Regions from separate parts of the Homo sapiens genome. Here region 1 is linked to region 2. The links come from fine-mapping of genetic effects on gene expression. A gene starts in region 2. The other region holds a variant in brackets. All regions are shown on one strand. Distances are from middle to middle. Region 1 overlaps C2orf80 (chromosome 2 open reading frame 80). Region 2 holds the start of IDH1 (isocitrate dehydrogenase (NADP(+)) 1).

Region 1 (3,017 bases), 75 kb after region 2:
TTGATCAGAAGTTATTTACTGTATTTAATACTTATGATACCCAAGCACAGTTTTAGACATACTGGAGCTATATTAGCTTTGTTTTATAATAAAAGAAAAGCCATGGTATGATCATACTTTGTTATTGCTGTTGTTGTTTAACAGAACAGTATCCCGATTGAGGAAGTCTTTAAAATTTATGGGGCTGATTCTTCTGCCGATTCTGGTACCATCAAGGTAAGGGTGACCTGGGATTGTCAATAGAAGGGATTTTTAGAGATAATTTATTTAGTGTATAAATGTATAATGTTGTATTTTCAGACATCAATTATGAAATAACAGTTTTACATCAAAATGTACAAAACCAGACATAACCATTTCTTACTTGAATAACGTGTGTGAAATGCCTTTCATATGTAAAAGACCATGCAGTAATAACAAATGTATCTTGTGTACGGCTGAGAAGGGGCAGCAATGAGTACCAGGCTTGGGGGCAAAACTTTACTCTGTTGTGGTTTTGTTTTTTTTTTTTGAGACAGAGTCTCACTCTGTCACCCTGGCTGGAGTATAGTGGTGCGATCTCGGCTCACTGCACTTCTGCCTCCTGGGTTCAAGGAATTCTCGTGCGTCAGCCTCCTGAGTAGCTGGGACTACAGGCATGCACCACCACACCCGGCTAATTTTTGTATTTTTTGGTAGAGATGGGGTTTTGCCATGTTGACCAGGCTGGTCTCAAACTCTTGGCCTCAAGTGATCTGCTTGCCTTGGCCTCCTAAAATACTGGAGTACAGGTATGAGCCACCATGCCAACCTCTGCTCTGTTTCTAATAAATGTAATTTTTCACGTACACTTTTTGTAATGTAGATCTGGTAGGTCCACACAGTTCCCTTCTATGATGTACTATATCTTCTAGAACTAGGACAAGATCCACAAGGCTCATTCTCATGACAAATTCCCTAGTTTACTGCTGATACATCTTCCTTTCCCACAACACTACTACATTTTTTAAAGACGGGTCTCACTGCTGGTCTCAAATTCCTGGTAATCCAGTAATCCTCGAAATCCTGGCCTCAGCCTCCTAAGTAGCTGGACTATAGGTGTGAGCTCCACTCTCAGCTCCTCCCATGAAACTACTTTGAAATCATTAACAGTAGAAGCAGCAATGACCTGGGAGTTCAGAGACCTGGGTTTGAGTTCTGACTCCACTACTATGAAACCCTAGATGCGTCCCTTTCCCCTTTCGGGCCTCCATATGACTGATCTTAAAAAAAAAAAAAGGGTGTTCTGAATAATTTTTAAGACCACTTCCATTTTTGCCACTTGTAAATGTATGAACATTAAGTAAACATTTAAATATGAACTGCTATTTAGAGGTGAACTACTGATCCCTTCACCTTTGGATACCTCCAGAAGAGGCAAGAGGAAAGGGAAGGTGAGGTGGCGAGGGCCATGCAGTGGGAGGGGGGAAGGGGGGCACCAACG[T/C]CCTCACGCCCAGGTCTTCTGCTCACACTGTGGCTTTCCCTGCCCCCACCTGGATTCAGAAGGGAGGGCAGGGCAGGGGCAAGGCTGTGGCCACAGGAATGCCTGCCTCCCTTATTCTTTTACTGCAGGTCATTGTGCAAGCAGTGGGGTCATGTAGAGTTCAAGAGCCCACCAGGTCCACCTTAGAAGTCAAGTGTTTACATTGAAACCAACTTTCCTATCACTTTAATCCATATGTAACCTGACTGTAGTCCTGAGACTCAAATGCCCTTGATCATTGTGAAAATCAGAACTTTCTCTCTGATCCCTCTAGTTTCAACTCACTTCATTCATTCACTCACTCATTCATTCACTCATCTGTTCATTCAGTATAATTGTAGGTGCAGGGGATACAGTGGTGAGCAAGTCAGACAAGATAACTTTTTAAAAACTTTTTTGCAGGCCGTTTGCAGTGGTTCATGCCTGTAATCCCAGAACTTTGGGAGGCCAAGGTGGGTGGATCACCTGAGGTCGGGAGTTTGAGACTAGCCTGGCCAACATGGTGAAACCCCAACTCTACTAAAAATACAAAAAATTTGCCAGGTGTGGTGGCGGTCGCCTGTAATCCCAACTACCAGGGAGGCTGAGGCAGGATAATCTCTTGAACCCGGAAGACGGACGTTGCAGTGAGCTGAGATCATGCCACTGCACTCCAGCCTGGACAACAAGAGCAGAAACTCCATCTCAAAAAACAATTAAAAAAAAATTTTAGGGATGGGGGTCTCCCTATGTTCCACAGGCTGGTCTTGAACTCCTGGGCTCAAGCGATCCTCCCACCTTGGCCTCCCCTAATGCTGGGATTACAGGCATGCATCACCACACCCAGCCAAGATTACTTTTCTTATAGATCTTATATCCTATATTGGAGCTTACCTTGTTTGAGATATAAGCCACCCCAGGCCTGACGCTCCTCAGAGATCAAGCTGTTCTTGGTTTTCAAAGAAAGCTCAGCTCTCTGTGTTCCTTGGATAGCCAAGCAAATCATACTGCTTTATTCCTGCTTGTCTTTTTCTGCAGCTTTCTCCCTTCTAGGCTGCCCTTTCTCCTTTTCCCCTACCCCTCAGCACATATACACACAAGCCTGAGCCCCAAACCCTTCTGTTTCAGTCACTGTTTTCTCCCTGTCACCTTCTGGTACCTGGGAGAGGTCTAGAAAGGCATCAGCACATCTGACTAGTTGGTCCCAACTCACATGGCTAAAAGACTAATATGGAAAAACACATCCTAGAGAGGATGGCACTGTGGACCCCTCCAGGTTTGGCTGGGTTATCAGTCAAGAAGGTTTGCAAACATGGGTGTCTGAGTAGCTCAGATAAATCAGGTTCATTTAAAGTTGCTAGAAGGCTGGGCGCGGTAGCTCATGCCTGTAATACCAGCACCTTAGGAGGCAGAGGTGGGTGGATCACCTGAGGTCAGGAGTTTGAGACCAGCCTGGCCAACACGGTGAAATCCTATCTCTACTAAAAACACAAAAAATTAGCGGGGCGTGGTGGTGCATGCCTGTAATCTCAGCTAC
Region 2 (2,708 bases):
AGGCTTCACATCTCTAGTCCAACTTCATTGGATCACAGATAATCCCCCGCCAACTGAGCATGGTGGCTCACGCTTGTAATCCCAGGACTTTGGGAGGCCGAGGAGGGCCAATCACTTGAGTCCAGGAGTTCGAGACCAGCCTGGGCTGCTGAAACCCATCTCTACCAAAGGAAAAAGAAAAGAAAAGAAAGAAAGAAAAATTAGTTGAGTGTGATTGTGTGCACCTGTAATCCCAGCTACTCGGAAGGCTGAGGTGGGAGGATCTCTTGAGCCCAGGAAGTCAAGGCTGCAGTGAGCGGTGATCGCTCCACTGCACTCCAGCCAGGGCAACAGAGCAAGGCCCTGTCTTAAAAAAGAAAATAATAAGAATCCCATTCATTATCTTCTAATGCAAACAATCAATGGAGTTTCTAAAGACCTAGACATAGGTGGTGTCAGGACCTGCTTCTGTAACTTTTCCATCCTTTGCATTAGGCAGCGCGGAACCCCCTAGGCGACCCCGCGCTGGCCGGGAGCACTCTTTCTTCAGCCAAAGGTACGTTCCATTACCGCCCCTCGGGGGCGCGCTAGGCAGCGGGCCGGCCAAGCTGCCGCCGCCCAGGGCGCCCTGTCCCGTTCGCTTTTGTGCCGACCTGGAAACACTCTGTGGTGCTCTAGATTGTTACAAAGTTCGGGGTGGTGCAGCCCCAGCGCGCCCCGCTCCCCGGCCTGCAGGTGGCATACAAGTCTCTTCGCTGTCGGGATTCGGGACTGAATCTCTGCCGGGCGGCAACCCCTTCCCCCACCGGGATCACCGGGAAAGTGGCACCATGGATTCTCCATCTTTGACTGTGGCCACGCCCCTCTCGCTGACTCCGCCCATCCCACGGGAATTGGCGTGTGGCGATTGGAGGCGTGTCGGGGGCGGGGCTGGGGGAGGTGGGCTGAGGAGGCGGGGCCTGGGAGGGGACAAAGCCGGGAAGAGGAAAAGCTCGGACCTACCCTGTGGTCCCGGGTTTCTGCAGAGTCTACTTCAGAAGCGGAGGCACTGGGAGTCCGGTTTGGGATTGCCAGGCTGTGGTTGTGAGTCTGAGCTTGTGAGCGGCTGTGGCGCCCCAACTCTTCGCCAGCATATCATCCCGGCAGGTAACCTCAGGCTCCAAGGGGCGGCCCCGGTCCCTGGCTGTGGAGGGGTGGCTCTAATTCCGCAGAAGGCAGGAATGGGGTAAAGGAAAAAAGCGCAGATCTTGGGTGTGGAGGGAGTCAAGGCCTGCGTGCAAAGAAGGGAACAAATCCAGGTATTGAGAATGGGAAAAGAAAAGGGAAGGAGGGGATGCTGGATGCTTGGATATGCAGAAGGTCTGCTTTTGGGCCTGGGAGGGAGAAACTGGGCGGTGAGGAAGTTGGATGCAACGACAAGGGGAAAATCAGGTCTGCACTTGGGTTGGAAAATCGAGGGGTGGAAGTTGCAAGAATGCATGTAGAAGACTAAGCCTGGAGTGTAGGAGGAAGAAAACGTGCAGCAGCTGGGGGCTGGATGCAAAGAAGGCTGTAAGCCGCAGACGGGCGTCTGCAGGCAACTCAGGCGGCGAGGAATAGCCTTGAAGCCGATCCCTCGCGTCCGCCAGGGGGCGTGGAGGGGCGGAGCTCCAGCGGCCTTCAGAGGGGTCGCTAGGCCACACGGGGCGAGAGGGGGCTGGGGGAAACACCCCCGCCAGTTCCGGGTGCCTGGAGTTTAAAAGGTCCCAGCACCAGCGAGGGGAGGGGAGGGGAGGGGCGGGCGTGGAGACCTGGAAGGAGGTACCGATCCAGCCTTGATTGCAGCCCTCTTGCACAACGGCCATAAGGACGGGTGCAGGCCAAGAGCAAGGACATGCAAACCCCAAGACCTGCTAACGGGCGGCGAAGCGGGGGCACGCCCTCGCACACGCAGAGATAAATTGTGCTCCCATGACCTTTATTTGGAAAGTGCCTGCGGGCCTAAAATTGGCCTTTGTCCCACCGAGTACACTCAGCACTGTACTTTAAACCGGATAAACTGGGCTGTCTGGCAGGTACTAAAAACAGCTAAATTCTCCTGTGAGTGTTCTGTATGTTAACACTTTTATTCCTTGTTTTGTTTTAGGCGATAAACTACATTCAGTTGAGTCTGCAAGACTGGGAGGAACTGGGGTGATAAGAAATCTATTCACTGTCAAGGTGAGAATTAGCAAATTTTCCCCCTTCTTCTGTACTTTCTTTGATGTGGCAGTACAGTGTTTAACTGGTCTTGGGGGCAGGCCGAGGCACTGCAAGGGAATGAGTGAGGAATATTTCCAACAACGAATTCCAACAGCTTCCTTGTTTCTTTTAATACAGTGTCTTATCTGCAAGAGATCCTTTTTGCCCAGAAATTATTGTAGTTCATGAACTCGGCAAAAAACAATCTGGCCAAAAACTTGAGGTTGATGAAAATAATATTAAATGGCTCTTTTTTTTCATTAAACTACTCTGTATTGTTATTCCAGGTTTATTTTCTGGAATTGCACAATTATGTTAGGAGATAGGATTCAGCTACTTCATATGAGCTGGTGCCTGCTGGTCTTGGAACAGCCCTTCCTTCTGAAGTTGGGATTGGGTTGGAGACAAAATCTGAGGGGCAACAAAGGTGGAGAAGTCAGTCCAGTGGGGCCTCAAGCCCATCCCATGGAAATCAGATCCAGAAGAAATACAATTATGTTCCACATGGT

Evidence for each region. PIP is the estimated chance that this variant, and not a neighbour inherited with it, causes the effect.
Region 1: its variant is fine-mapped to the expression of IDH1 in nasal epithelium (TOPMed, PIP above 0.99).

Annotation. Positions count from the first base shown.
Region 1 is chr2:208,177,944-208,180,960 of GRCh38, reverse strand. It overlaps C2orf80 (chromosome 2 open reading frame 80), which reads left to right. Exons shown (of 9, transcript NM_001099334.3): 6 at 145-216. Among named protein-coding and RNA genes, the nearest start is that of C2orf80, 11 kb to the left of the region's middle. The variant T/C (reference allele first, on the strand shown) is at 1,463.
Region 2 is chr2:208,253,356-208,256,063 of GRCh38, reverse strand. IDH1 (isocitrate dehydrogenase (NADP(+)) 1) reads left to right here and starts at 993. Exons shown (of 10, transcript NM_005896.4): 1 at 993-1,125; 2 at 2,105-2,178. IDH1-AS1 (IDH1 antisense RNA 1) reads right to left here and starts at 831. Exons shown (of 2, transcript NR_046452.1): 1 at 633-831; 2 at 1-161. RefSeq lists an enhancer at 759-1,285 and a silencer at 1,739-1,848.